Linked DNA regions of Homo sapiens. The protein of the gene in region 1 purifies or fractionates together with the protein of each later gene. This does not show direct contact. Each region holds a gene or a part of one and is shown on either strand. Other genes may lie near its edges.

What was found. Proteins that work in one complex are often made in the same cells at the same time.
Region 2: the proteins of SOST (region 1) and KCTD10 purify together in Homo sapiens (affinity purification with mass spectrometry; 2 studies listed by BioGRID and IntAct, with this or other methods). This does not show direct contact.

Annotation. Positions count from the first base shown.
Region 1 is NC_000017.11:43,755,628-43,763,199, forward strand, and holds the start of SOST (sclerostin precursor), read right to left. Parts: upstream 3,165-7,572; 5' UTR 3,115-3,164; coding exon 2,895-3,114; intron 137-2,894; coding exon 1-136. UniProt on the Homo sapiens protein: Negative regulator of bone growth that acts through inhibition of Wnt signaling and bone formation.
Region 2 is NC_000012.12:109,460,182-109,467,347, reverse strand, and holds part of KCTD10 (BTB/POZ domain-containing adapter for CUL3-mediated RhoA degradation protein 3), read left to right. Parts: intron 1-6,542; coding exon 6,543-6,712; intron 6,713-7,166. UniProt on the Homo sapiens protein: Substrate-specific adapter of a BCR (BTB-CUL3-RBX1) E3 ubiquitin-protein ligase complex. The BCR(BACURD3) E3 ubiquitin ligase complex mediates the ubiquitination of target proteins, leading to their degradation by the proteasome.

The sequences.
Region 1 (7,572 bases):
ATGGCGTTGGGCAGCAGGCGCGCCGGGCCGCACTGGCCGGAGCACACCAGCTCGGTGACCGGCTTGGCGCTGCGGCACGGCCCATCGGTCACGTAGCGGGTGAAGTGCAGCTCGCGGCAGCTGTACTCGGACACGTCTGTGGAGAGAGGCGCGCGTGAGGGTGGCCGCCCGCCTGGCCACCCCTGCCCTGGACCGGCCCGTCTCTCTCCACCCCAGCCCTGCTTTTGCCAAGCCTGTCTCCAGAGGCTTTTGCCCCTGAACATCTATTGCAGGAAGGTCCCAGATGCTCTAGAGCTGGTGGAAAGCTCTCCTGCGCACCCTGTCCCCTCGGAGCCAAATGACTGCTGGGGTTCAAACACCAGGGCTCCATCGCTCACTGCAGGTGTCATCTTGGGCAAGTTCCTTAACCTCTCTCTTCTTCCTGTCTGCAAAATGGGCCGCCCCAAGCATTGCGAGTTAATCCATTACACACGCAATGCAGAAAATACCATTTGGCACATATAGCTGAAAGCGTCGGCTGTTATGTATTATTATTATCATTTCTCTTCTGGGGTCTTCTTATGATTTAAGCCACACTTGTGCCGCAGGGTCCCTGGCCTGGGCAGGGTAAGTACTCAGCACACCTTCTGCCTGGCTCTGGCTTCTCCCAAATTCCTTTTCCAGCCACTTGGGAGGGGTGGACAGGGGATGGAGAAAGGAGTAGAGGTTAATTGAAGGTAATAAATCAGGGCAGCTGCTGTGGAGGCGAGGGACTGAAGGGGAGGTGATCAGGACAGGAATTCATTAGACTTGAAAGGAATCAAAGGCAGTGTGTCCAACCCCCTCATTATCAATGAGAATACTGAGGCCCAGCCAGAGAAAAGAACTTGCCCAAAAGGCTGGGCTGCATCTCCGGACTCCACTTCCCTGGGGTCCCAGCACCTTTTGGCTCCGGCAAGAGTGGAGGCTCTGCGTTCGAGCATCCATGGGAGGCTGGGCTGGGGGATGGAGCTGAGGGCTGCTTTTTACTGTCGTTACTTTCCTACCATAGGGGCCCTGAGCTCTGACCCAAAACCTACAGGTTCAGCTGCCACAAACATTGACCTGGCTCTCTGCTGGGCACATTTCTTGTTCTGTGTTATCTGAATGGGCGCCTCATGGTGATACTCCCTGGGCAGGCAGAGATTGGGCTCCGAGGCCTGGCCTGATCCCCTGCACACACCTTGACCATGTCTCCTATGGTGGACTTAGATGGGTGGGAGCTTTTTAAATAGCTGGTCGTCGTGTGAGTACCAGTCCACCCCCAAAGGTTTCATGGGGATAGTTCCAATGTGACAAGAAAGAATGAAAAATAGTCTTAAGACCAAACCAGAGAGGGGACAGAGAAGGCCACCCCCCACCCCCACTCTGAAGAGCAAGCACAGCAGGGGAGATGTGGCCACTGCCATCGTCTGGGGCTGCTTTCTGGTCTGTGGGCTGGTTTGCATCCTCACCTCTGCAGGGCTGGAATGTGTGTGTGGTCAGGGGGGCATTTGCCCAGGGAAGGGGGCATTTTGCGGCTTTTCGAGAATAGCGCCCCTAGGCCAGGCACTTCCTCTGCAGATCATGACTTTGTTTTGAGCATGTGGCTTCCTCAGGGGCTGTGGCCTCTCGTGGGAGTCCAGCAAGGTGGACATTTTGTGTTTGGGTTCCTTACAGCCCTTCAGGCAGTCGCTGGAGCCCAGCTGACCTTGCCTAGAAGGGGAGCTGTGGGGGGAGGCGCCCTTGTCCTCCATTTTGAAGACGGAGGGTCCTGGCTGGCCTCCCATGCAGTTGCCCTTTTTAGCACCCCATAGTCCCAACAGGTTGTGAGGCGGGGAGGGCTGGGGTCCAGGAGCCTGGGCAGTGGACTTCTCTGCCACCTGGATAATGGCCAGAGGACAGGGAAGCTCTTAGTCTGAAGTGTCATTTCAGACGCCCCCATGGCCTCAGGATTCCTGCCAATTATAGAGCCAGATGCACACTGTCACCTGGGCTTCTCTGTGCAGGCCTGACCAGGAACCCAGGGTTCCTCTTCCTTCTCCCTCCCCTGGAATGAGGCAAGGTTGGGACTGGGGTGGCTGCTGAGGACAGATGTCCCTACTCCTGCACAGAGGATGCTGCTCTCCCCTCCAGGGCCTGGACTCAGCTGCACCCATGTCAGGGGCTAAAACTGTGCCGAAAACTCCCATTCCTTCAAGTGCCAGCTCCCTGGGCAGGCCGTGGGCAATGCACACTGCAGGGGTGCCTCTCTGGCCTTCCTCCCCACTGCTTTGTGGAGATCTGTCCCCCACACCCCCCCACACACCAGGGCTATCTTGCAGTTGGATCAAACCAGGTTCACACCTCAGCTCTTCTCACTACCAAGTTACTGAGTGCCTGGAACCTGTTTCTTCCCCTTCGAGCTGGGGGTTCACCTCCTGGGGATTCCATGATGTGGGTCTGTGTGGTGGGGACAGCCACCACCAGCATAGAGTGTCCGGTGCCCCACAGGTGCTGTTCTGTGGATGGGAGGCTCCCTTACCTTGTTCCCTTCCCAGTGGTACCAGCAGCTGGACGTGGCTCCTATATTCCCAGGAGGAGATTCTTTGAAACCTTTTCTTTTCTGAGCCCCTGAGCCTGTTCTGATGCCCTGATGCCATACCCTCACCACCCCAGCGTCCTCCCTGCCCTGGGCTCTCACCAGCGTCTGTTGCCTCATGCCTCTGCACCTGAATTTGAAGGCTGCACCAGCGAGCCATTCTTCCCCCACCTCCAGGCAAGACTGTTCCTCGACCAGTGCTGGCAGAGGCCAGCAATCTTCACTGGGTCTACCCCAGTCTTCCAAGCCTCCCAAAGAGAAGTTTCTAAAACCTCCCCAGGATCTTTTACTAAGAATTCTCTCCTCCACCCCATACCTTTGGTCTCAAAGGGGTGGTGGGGAGGCCGCCCTCCGTTCTCCGCCCGGTTCATGGTCTTGTTGTTCTCCAGCTCCGGTGGAGGCTCGGGGTACTCTCCGAGCTCGGGGATGATTTCCGTGGCATCATTCTTGAACGCCTGCCACCCCTGGCCCTCCACTACACGGAAGGCTGTGTGTACCAGCAGGCAGACGAGACACAGGGCCAGTGGGAGCTGCATGGTACCAGCCAGAGGAGGGCACGCCACCTTCCAGTAGCACAGGCTCTGGTCTCCAGCCGAGACACGGTCGCCTTTTTAAAGCCCCTCTCTGCTTCATGCCAGCCAATGAGGACAGGCTGGGGCAGGGCTGGTCCCATGTTTCCCTCAGCCCCGGAGGGAGGGAAAGGGGTGTGCTCAGAGCAAACCCTCCCCAAAGACTTCTCCTCTAGCTCAGCAAACTTCCAAATTGCTGCTGGCACTCCCAGGTGACCCAGAGAGAGGGGGCGTGTGAGGCAAGGCCCAAGCCTGCTCTCCGGCACCTCCCACGTGCTGGCGGCTGTGGTTTTCAGATATCAAAATGAGCTCCGGCTTTTAATTGTCTGTCTCCCTGGGCCCTCGGGCATTCTCAAAACAAACTGTGGACCCGCTCAACAAAGAAAATGTGCAGTTCTGAGTGCTTCGCGGGGCTGAGCCCGGCCTATTCCATTTCTCAGGCCAAGTTCATTTGTCACCCCACCAACAAATGGCCCAAGGCGTTTCTGTTTGACCCCCATAGACCCAGCCAGAGGCAAAAAGATGCTTTTAAAGAAATCCCATTGGTCCCAACTCCACAAGTCTCAGCATTCATTGTCCTAACCAAGAAAGCCTCTCTTGGTATTCTCTGGAAGGCAAGAGAGAGAACTAGAGGGTCAGAGCAAGGGTGCCCGCTTGGGAGAGAGGGCAGGATTCTGGTTACAAATCGAGGATGCGCTGGTCACTCAGGCTCCTGTGGTGGACAGCACAGAGGAAATCCCAGCTCATGCTCCTCAGGGATCCTGTGCACTGTGACAGGCACTTCTGAGCCAGGGCACTCACTGTGGCTCGCAGGGTGATGTGCTGAAGACAGTCATTTCCCCAACCAGTCTGTGTGTGTGAGAAGACAACACCAAATTCCTTTCCTTAGCAAAAGCCACAGCCAGCGTTTTTAGTGCTGACATTTTATTTTCTTGTCTTCCAGCTGGTTACATTTTTCAAAAACAGTTTTGAGTCCTGTATGGAAAGCTTCATTGGTGCACACCACAGGATGTGTTCCATGAAGCCATCCCAGGACCAAGTGGTCACAAAGAAGCTAAGAGAAAATGCTGCCTTGGCCCTGCATATAATGAGCCACACAGGGCCGGGGCGGGGGGCGGGGGGGCAGGTAGAGGCGTGGGGGAGAAGGATTCACACCTGAGGTGCAAGAAGAGAAAGGAAGGCCAGAGGAATCTTTCATTGAAGACAGATTGTTTGAGGACAAGCAGCTCCTGTGAAGAGGCTGCCCAGATCCTCTGGTATTTTAACTGGGCAATGAATCAGCATGCCCCACCTGCAGAGCCTCTGCAAGTCCTTTGCCACCTGCCTCAACTTGCAAGTCGCTGTGTCCATCTGCAGCCGACTGTCCTCCTTTCCATCATCCATCATCCGACACATGAATGCAGCTGCTCTGACAGTTTTACAAGCCAGACAGAAGCCCCCTCAGGAAGGGCCCTCTCTGATACCTGCTTCCTAAGTCAGTTTCCTTCAGGGCAGATGAAAACAGCTGTGGCCATTGTTGGGGGTGATCTATCTCTCCCAGCAGAGCCGGTAGTGTTGTGAGAAGCTGGCCCTCCGCGCCACCTCCCCTTGTCTATGACCCTCCAGCCTCCTTTTCCCTTGCTCTGGAATGTGGACTGTTAACCCTCTCATGACCAGACGACTGCCTTCTTGCAATGGACTTGGGAGAGAGCAGTTCTGATGCCTGGGTTCCTTGAGCAGGTAGGATGGATGCTTATAGCCCCACCTGCTGTTGGGAGCGGCTGGACCGTCTGCATTAAACAGAGGCAGTGGGATTCATCCCTGGAACGCGTCTGCCACCTGCTGGAGACAAAAGGAGGGGTGACTGCAGGATGGCAAGTCTCAGGACTGGACGTGATTTCCTTTCCTTTCCTTTCCTTATTTGGAAGTGAAGTAATATTAAAAGGAAAAAGAAGAATCCAGTGGACTTGAACCTCTAAATGATCCACACCCCTCTGAATGGCTCAGCGAGAACCTGCTGTGACATCTTCTGCTGTTTCATTTAATGTTAAGTCATTGACAGCTGTTTATTTTTACTCAGTCCACAAACTTGTCATTGTTCACAGTACTCCCTGGAATTAAACCCCCAGGGTTTTAGCTGATTCCTATTGTGAGTAGTTTAGGTTATTTCCAATTTTTTTTCCTATTTCCAGCAGGGTTGCTATGAACATCCTTGTACGGCTGAAATTTTTTTTTTTTTCTTTTTTTGGCAGATTCTCTCTGTGGCCCAGGCTGCAGTGCAGTGGCACAATCTTGGCTCACTGCAACCTCCACCTCCTGGGTTCAAGCAATTCTCCTGCCTCAGCCTCCCGAGTAGCTGGGATTACAGGAATGCACCACCACGCCCGGCCAATTTTGTATTTTTAGTAGAGACGGGGGTTTCTCCATGTTACTCAGGCTGGTCTCGAACTTCTGACCTCGGGTGATCTGCCCAACTCGGCCTCCCAAGGTGCTGGGGATTAGAGGCATGAGCCACAATGCCCGGCCTCAGAGTAATTTTTTAAATTAAAATTTTAAAATGTGGATATAATTATAAATTTAAATATACTTATAAGAAATAAAAGCCTGGGCAACATGGTGAGGCCTAGTCTCTACAAAAAATTTAAAAATTAGCTGGGCATGGGGTCGCACGCCTGTGGTCTTAGCTACTTGGGAGGCTGAGGTGGGAGGTTCACTTGAGGTTGAGGTCGAGGCTGCAGTGAGCCATACTTGGGCCACTGCACTCCAGCCTGGATGACAGAGTGAGACCCCGTCTCAAAAAATAAAAATAAAAAAAAGAAAATGCAGACTCCGTGTATCCTTTATCCAGTTTCCCACAACAATAACACCTTGCGAAACTATAGGACAATATCACAACTAGGATATTGATATTGACACAATTTACCAATCTTACCCACATCTCCCGTGGTTTAACCTCTACTGTGTGCGTGCACACGCATTCACGTGTGTGTATACTTAGTTCTATGCAATCTTGTCACGGGTAAATTTGGGGATCCACCACAGTCAAGATAAAGCACAGCTCTGTGACCACAAGTCTTTCTCCTGTTGCCCACCTCCTTCCCTCCTTTTCCCTCCCTCCCACAACTAACCCCTGGCAACTACTCATCTAATCTCCATTTCTGTCATTTTTTTTTTTCACTTCAAAATTGTTACATAAATGCGGCCAGGTGCGGTGGCTCACTCATGTAATCCCAGCACTTTGGGAAGCCAAGGCAGGCAGATCACTTGAGGTCAGGAGTTCGAGACCAGCCTGGCCAACATGGCGAAACCCTGTCTCTACTAAAAATACAAAAATTAGCTGGGCATGGTGGCACGCACCTGTAATCCCAGCTACTTGGGAAGCTAAGGCAAGAGAATCGCTTGAACTCAGGAGGCGGAAGTTGCAGTGAGCTGAGATCGCGCCACTGTGCTCCAGCCTGGGTGACAGAGTGAGACTGTCTCAAAAAAAAAAAAAAAGGTTATATAAATGGAATCAATTAGTATGTAGCCTTTGGGGATTTTTTTTTCACTCAGCATTATTTCCATTATCCAAGTTGTACATATCAGTAACATGTTCCTTTTTCTTTTCTTTTTTTTTTTTTTGGCTGAGTAGTATTCCACAAAGTTTAAAAAAACAAAACAAAACTTTAGAGTTATTTCTGGAAGTGAATGCTGTGTCTGAGGGAGTGTGAAGAGTTTGGTGGTCTGATGAGGGTATTGCAGGGCTGTTTTCCAGAAAAAGCCCAGTCCCCGCCCTCACCTGCAAAATAGAGGCTCCCATAGGTGGTACTTTGATGAGGCTGCCGTAACTAAGTACCACAAATTGGGTGGCATAAACAACAGAAGTCGTCTCACAGAGCTGGAGGTTAGGAGTGCAAGTTCAAGACATTGGCAGAGTTGGTTCCTTCGAGGACAGCGAGGAAGGCCTTTTACCTGCCTTCTGCTGGCTGCTGACAAGCTGTGGCATTCACTGGCTTGCAGAAGTGTCACCCCCAATCCCTGCCTTCATCTTCACATGGTGTTCTCTCTGTGTTCGAATTTTCCCTTTTTTCTAAGGAGGTCAGGCATATTAGATTAGGCCCAGCCTAATGACCTCATCTTAACGAGTTACATCTGTAATAGCCCTATTTCCAAATAAGGTCACATTCTCAGGTACTGTGACTTAGGACTTCAATATATGCATTTGGGAGGAATGCAGTTCAACCCATAAATAAGACTGTCAACACTGGGTTTGGGATGTTGATTTTTTTTTTTTTTTTTTTTTTTTTTTTTGAGACAGAGTCTCGCTCTGTCACCCAGGCGGGAGTGCAGTGGTGTGATCTTGGCTCATATAACCTCCACCTCCTGGGTTCAAGCAGTTCTCCTGCCTCAGCCTCCCGAGTAGCTAGGACTACAGACTCCCGCCACCACACCCAGCTAATTTTTGCA
Region 2 (7,166 bases), on another chromosome or scaffold:
ACGCACAGCCGATGGGTATTGTTTCATTTAATCCTCACCATAACCCTTCGAGGGGTGGATACTGTTGTTGCCATTCCAAGTGAGGAGTCCCCATTTCAGAGGTGAAATGCTTTTTCAAAAGCTGATGGGACTAGAAAAGGTGAAGCTGCTGAACCCAGGACTTGCTGCCTCTTACTGTCTGCTGTCCATGGCTAGTTGTGGGCCTGGTCCAAGGCCAGATCATTTGAGTGTGGCATCCTTATGGTTTAACTGCTGTCTTTGTGCTAAAGCCCTCTGGTGGGGGCCCTCGTGAAGGCCTGGGCTGGTAGGCTGGGTATCTGGCCTTCCAGCTGTTGTCTGTGTCTGGCAGAGCGATCCTGTCGGTCCTTGGAGAGAGCACTGCATAGCCTGACCCATGGCCTGCATGTTGCCTCAAATGCACCCTTGGGTCTACAAACTGGGATAGACTCCCTGCATCCTGCAGCTCTACCCTGGCCTACAGGCTGGAAGCCTGTCAGCTGCAATGAAGTTTGCTACAAATAGGCAGAAATGCCAAGTGCAGCTCAGCCAGGCAGTGAATCCAGCAGTACAGCTTGCTGGTTAAAGGACAGGGGCTTTGAAGGTCCTGAACAGGGGATGTGTCATGTTGCCCAAGAAAGTGATTGCTTCAGGAGAGGGGACCTGGCATCCAGCATGGGGGGAATAGTCTCCTTTTTGCTCTGGGCCCTTCTACCTGATTGAGTTTTGTACTGTGTGCAAGTAACTCCTAAACCAAGAAGAACTTGGATGTTGATGTTAGCCAGGCCTGGGTTCAACACCTGGCTCTGCTGCATGTCACAGTCACAGCCGACATTTGTGGAGCTCTGTCTACATGTTGTGCTAATTTTGGCCTATTTGCCATTTACTGGTCATGTGACATTGGACAAGTGGCTTTTTCTCTGAACCTCTTTCCTCCTTCCCCAGTTATGAATGATAATGTTTTGCAGAGTTGGGGATTGAGTGAGGACATGAGAAAGCGCTTGCCACAGGGCCTGAGATGTTGGGAGAACTCAGTAAATGGGAACTGTCAATTATGGCTTTTGTTCTGAGTGTAAATGTTGGGGGGATGAGTGTTGCTGAGGGGCTACAGAGAAGCAGGTCTTAGCAGCATGTCGGGAGAGGCTGCCTGCCTTGGCCTTCAGGGATGAGTGTGCTGCAGTTCCACACTACCCCCAAGGGATGGCTTTTCTGAGAAGACAAGGACACTGTGGCAGTGAGCATGCCCTTTCCAGACTCTTCCCGGAAAGGTTCAGTTCCCACAATGCTAGAATTTTCACCTGACTCCTTGTCAGCATTGCCATTGGTCCACGGATGTAGGTAGCACCTTTCACAATGCATTCTGTTCAGCATTTGCCTGTAGTGGTCTGTTTCATCCCTGTTGCTTCGTACAATACTTCCCCCTATTGTAGGTTTTCTGATGTCTTGCTAATGTATTTTGGAATTAGTGCGTACACTAGATTGAAGAGTCATTCATTTTGTGATCGCACATTCCCCTAGAAAACTGGGAAGTCCAGTCTGATCCATGGGAAAACTGCAGTTCCTGGGGGTTTCCCTGAGATCTCCAGCCCTTCTGCCTTCCATGACAATGCTCTTTGGTAAAATTCTGAAGTACCTGAGAGCTTTTAAATTGTGAATAATACAACAAACTCACCTGTGCCACCAGGCTCAGCCCAGGCATAAAGTATGACCTGTACCTGTGGGGCCCCTTTGTGCCTTCTCTGTTTGTCCCTCTCCCTTCCAAAGGTAAGCATTTGGGGTCACCAGGTGGATCTCAAGCTTGGCTACAGAGGGAGTCACCTGAGGAGGTCAGTACTGGTGCCTGGGTCCCAGCCAGGGTGTGGCCCAGGCAGTAGGACTTTGAAGAGCTCTCTGGGTGATTCTAGTGTGCAACCAGCATTGAGAACCACAAGTGTCCATCTTTCCAGGTATTACTCTTACTATAGCTGTGCATGTCCCTAAACAAGGCGCTGTTGGTGTGTTTTTAAACGTGATGTAAATGGTGCTGTACAGTTTGTATGTTTTGCTTTTGCTTACGTAGCATTATGCTTGTGAGATCAATCCACAACTAAATAGCTCTCGTTCAGACATTTTCCGGTGGTAGAGTGTCCATTCTAGAAGCATACAGCCGCTGCCGGAGCCATATTCTGTTGATGATCATGTAGAGGGTTTGCGGTGTTCACTGTGACGAATGTGAACATCCTTGAACGCTTTCCCCGTGCGTGGGAGTTTCTCTGTGCGATGCTGCCCAGCCTTTGCCACATCATGGGGCACGTAGACAATCATATTTTCACTTTGGCAAATGAGGGGGCTCTGGACTCCCTAGATCCCACCCAGCCATCTCAAGGGCTATGGCTTTAAGATCTTACCCACTGTTGGGAGCTCAGCCCTAGAGTTTATTCCCAGGAGGGGAATTGGGACAGCATCTTCTACTTCCTTAGATATTGCAGGAGTCCCTTCTGGAGTGGTTATGGCAACTTCTACTCCCTGCAGAAGTCTGGATTTTTGCCAACCCTTGGCACTGTCCAACCTTTTAATTATTGCAAATCTGGTGAGTATGATATGGTACCTTGTTTTATTCAGTATTTCCTAATGTCTGGTACGTTGAGCATGTTTTTATGTGTATTGCTCTTTTGAGTTTAATCTTTTAACTGCTTGATTGCATCTTACTTACACATTTGCCTTTTTCTTATTACTTTGCAAAAGTTCATATACTGGATCCTGTTTCTTTGGGGTCCAGTGCTGCAAATATCTTCTCCCAGTCTGACTTGTCTGAGCTTTTTTAATGGGGCTTTTGGAAACCTCAGAGTTTAAATCGCTTTTTTACACTTACATCCTTGATCTACCTCAGTGATGCCCAAACCAATGGGTGATTTTTTGGGATATTTAGCAATGTCCAGAGACATTTTTGTTGTTTCTTGGGGATGATGGTGCTCCTGGCGTCAAGTGAGTAGAGGCCAGGGATGCAACTAAATACCCTACAATGTGCGGGGCAGCCTCTTACAACTAAGAATTATCTGGTCCAAAATGTCAAAGTGCTCAGGTTGGAGACCCTGCCCTAGGGATTCTGATCAGGAATGAGGCAGGTTGCTAGAATCTGAATTTTTCACAAGTACCTTGGGTGGCATTTATGATCAGGGGTGTTTGGGAACCACAAAAATATAGAGTATAAATACCTTAGGATGGCAAAGAGAGGTCAGTGAAGGTTCCCTGGAGGTGGTGGGAGAGGGGAAAGGAGAGGTCAGACATCCAGGGAGAGAGGAAGCACATGGTATGCTCACGGGGCGGGGAGGAGGGGAGCCTAGTGGCCCAATCCTCCTGACCCCCAGAGCAGCCTTCTCCTCCCTTGGGTCCCTGAAAGCAACACCAACTCCATCCTGGGGGCTGGAACTTGCTGCCTCTGGACGCTGCTGCTCTGCTTCCAGCAATAATGATGAAAGATGAGATTGTTAAAGACCCATAGCTGCTTTTGAGTGCTGTTGGTAGACCCAGCATTGTGCTGTGTGCCTTCTGTACGTTCTTTCATCATATTTTTATGTCAACCCTGTGAGATCGTTTGTAGAAGAGAAAACTGCTAGACAGAGGTTAATTGAAGCACCAATGTCATCCAGCAAGAAGGTATCAGAGCTGGGTTTCCAACACTTAACTGCTGTGCTGTGCTGAGGACGTCCTGGAGCCCAAGTCCAGTGCTGCCCAGTGTGGTCCCGGTCAGTTCTGCTCTCCAGCCTTGCCTAATGGGTCTGGGATCCCAGGCTGCCCTGACTTTGGACAGCCTTCCTAAATAGCTCTCGTGCCCCGTGGCAGCAGGAGAGAGACCCCCCACATGCGAGGAGCTGCTTGACTTCCATTTGTCTTTCTACGTGCTAGGCATTTGAGCTGACTTTCAAAGGGATCACTTCCTGCTTTGAAAGCAACCACAGTATCTTAAAGTCAAAACGCTGATTGAAACCTCCTGGAGAGTGTGCCTGGCTCCCTTGCCCTTATTTGTCCAAAGTATGATTCTTTCGCCACAAGCATTTCCTGACGGCATTCTTGAGCCGGAGCCCAGTGTCACGGTCTGCCTGTTCATTTATGGGAACTCTGGGCTGTCATTTGGATAATTGATTTCAGGGCCCTGGGTCTTCCCAAGCAGCTGAGTTCTGCAGACATCAAAGGCAGAACGTGGAAGGTTCCTTCCCTGCGCAGCTGAGTTGAATTCTATTTATCTTTTCAATTCTGGTGAAAGGAGTTTTCCTATGAGTGCCTTACTTTTTCTTTGTGGTCTAGTCCTGCTGCCTCTGCTTGGGAATGGCACTGCACCTCTCTGAGCCTCTGTTTTATTTGTGGAAAATGCAAGGGAATGAGCTCCCCTCAAAAAAGAACTGGTAGAAAGATAATACGGTCTTTCCCTGCCTTGTCAGCCTTCTGAGAAAAAATTACTTGGTGTAGGGTAGCACAGAGGCCTCAAGCTGGTAGCCTGCAGGCCCAGTTCAACTGCAGATGTGTTTTGTTTGCCTTGTGGTGGGTTGATGACAGTTTTGTTTTGTTTTAATTAGTTTACCGTCCTTTAAAAATCAGGGAATTCACAGAAAAATCTGGGTTTCTGGCATTGCATGGAACATCAGAGCTCACAGCTCTTGGGCCCACATTCCTGCCTGGCCACTCTTGGCTGGAGTGGGAAGAGCCTGCCTCTCTTGGGGGCAGGGCAGATGCTGTCCTGTCAGCCCCAGCCTCAGCCCCGCCCAGCTGCACTCATTTATTGTGCTTACTGGCCCTGGAGGCATCTGGGTTGCATAAGATATTAATTCCATATTTTGTTTTCTCAGATGTAGAAAGAAGTGGGGTGGGATCACATTTGCAGGTCACTGTCAGGGTGATGTGATTTACCATGCCTGGGAAGGCCTCTTTCTTCCCTGAAACCAGGAGTTGACTCAGGGCTATACATTTGTATTGCATTTCCCCCCACTTGGGGTATTCTTCCCACCTACTCAGGAAATTGGAACAGTGCGGAAGTAGGAAGTGGAAGCCGCTGGAGGGTGGAGACCGTTCTTTTAACAAAAGGCCCAGGAACTTTAGGCTGAGCTGTTTCATCAGGGGAACCTGGAAACGGCCCTGTTATCAAACTTTCCTGGCAATTCATGCAAAGAATACCAAACTATGCCCTAAAACCATGAGAGGGCACTTGGCAGGGACTGGACCTGCCAGGTAAGGGGTAGGGGAAAGCGGGCAGACTTAAGACTCTGGATTGTGAAAAAGATGCGTTTGCTGCTCTCAACTTTTGCTGGCCTCTGCCACTGATCCAAGGCCCAGGATCAGTAGGGCCCAGTCTGAGGAGGACGTGGAACAGGGCACAGCATTGTTAGGAGTGGAACAGGGCACAGCGTTGTTAGGAGTGGAAATGTTGGCCCTTCTCCCAAAGTGGGGAGGAAGGTGGTAGCATAAAGTGACCGATTCCTACTGAAGCCTTCTCACGGCCCTGCGCACTGGCATTTTCCACCTGTAATGCGTGGCAGGAGCCGTGGGGACGCCCCTTGCCTGAGGTCACCCTGCTTGTCAGAAGGCCTCGACTTCACCCTCTCATCTGTCTGGCTTCTTTTTAGAGCTTCACATTTGCTGTTGGGAGATACTTGGACTTTGCTCCATTCCTGCCTTCCTTTTTGGTACCTCCTCCTCCTAGGCTCCAGTCCTGTCTTCTACAAATACCACTCCCAGAGACACTGCATTTCAGTAGAGGAGTTCTGAAAACCCTCAGGATCTCTGGTGGAGGAATGTCAGCTCAGTGACAAGATTAGAAAGGACATTGAGCAGCAGAGTAGGGAGTCTTCCTGGCCCCCACCCCCAAGAATGTTTCACAGTGCCTGGATTTGGTCAGCTTTGGGACCTTTTTCCATATCCAATAAAAGCTGATTCTGTCTCCCCATGTTTACCGAGCTGCCTGAGGGTGGGGTCTGTCTTGGTCATTCACTAGCCACTAAGTGCTTGTTGCAGGAAGTTGTGGGATAGGACTTCCTGTGTTGGTGCTGGTCAGTGTCTAGGGCTCAGCCTTGGGAGTCAGAGGTCACAGTCTGCGAGGGTGAGACTTGTGCGTTCTTAGAAATGGCTCTGTTAATGTGACAGTTTGAAGGAAGCTTTGTGGAAAGAGGAAGTAGATATTTTTTACCCAGAAGGCTTTCTTCTATCCTTGGTATGTGGCCATTTGGGCCTGTTTTACCCAGGTGTGGTACACGAGGCCCCTGTTGGATGTCCTTGTGTAAGGGATATTTGAGGGTACTTCAGAAGTGTACTTTTGGGCCTCAAGAGTCGGGATGTCTAACAGAGCCTCAGACCAGGGTCACCTGGGGTTATGGTTGTGTCCAGCCAGTAGGGCCTGGAGGCTGTGGGGGCTTCCTCAGCCCTTAGTGGGCAGGTAGGCAGGTGAGGCTGCCATTCTCCAGGCAGTCCCGCTCTCCGCTGGGAGGTAGAGGGAGCCGAGAGACACCCCAGCTCTGCTCAGGGCCTCCCACAAGAGGAGGGCCCATGTAACCAGCCCCTGCCTCCTCCCTCTGCAGGCTGGATCCTCATTGACCGCTGTGGGAAGCACTTTGGTACGATACTCAACTACCTTCGAGACGGGGCGGTGCCTTTACCCGAGAGCCGCCGGGAGATCGAGGAGCTGCTAGCAGAAGCCAAGTACTACCTAGTCCAAGGCCTGGTGGAAGAGTGCCAGGCGGCCCTACAAGTAGGCATCACCCTTTCTTCCCATATGGGTGGAGAGGCACCAAGCCTACCTGCCTTCCTCATTTTCCCTCTCTGCAAAATGGGGGCAGTTTCTGTCTGACTGAGATGTTGTGAGAGTTAATGAGTTTGCCCTGGAGCCCGATTCCTTCGGTTGGAGTGACCCCTGAGAGGCCTCCCTGGAACAGCAGGCCACCTAACTACTGTGTCACTCCTTGCAGCCCCATGCTGTTGGATCTTCTCATGTGTACATCTCAACCCTTCAGCAGAGAACCCCGCGGTGTGAAACTTGGTCGGTGTTCGGGACCAATCTTAGGGCTTACTCTAGTCCCACAAGTCATTGTTGGGAGCTCAGCATAATCTCTACAGACAGACACCCCTCACTCCTTAGCTAGACAGAGCAGGACCACTGGAGTCAGGTCTGGTGACAGTAAAATCCCACAAAAACAAAATGCTTC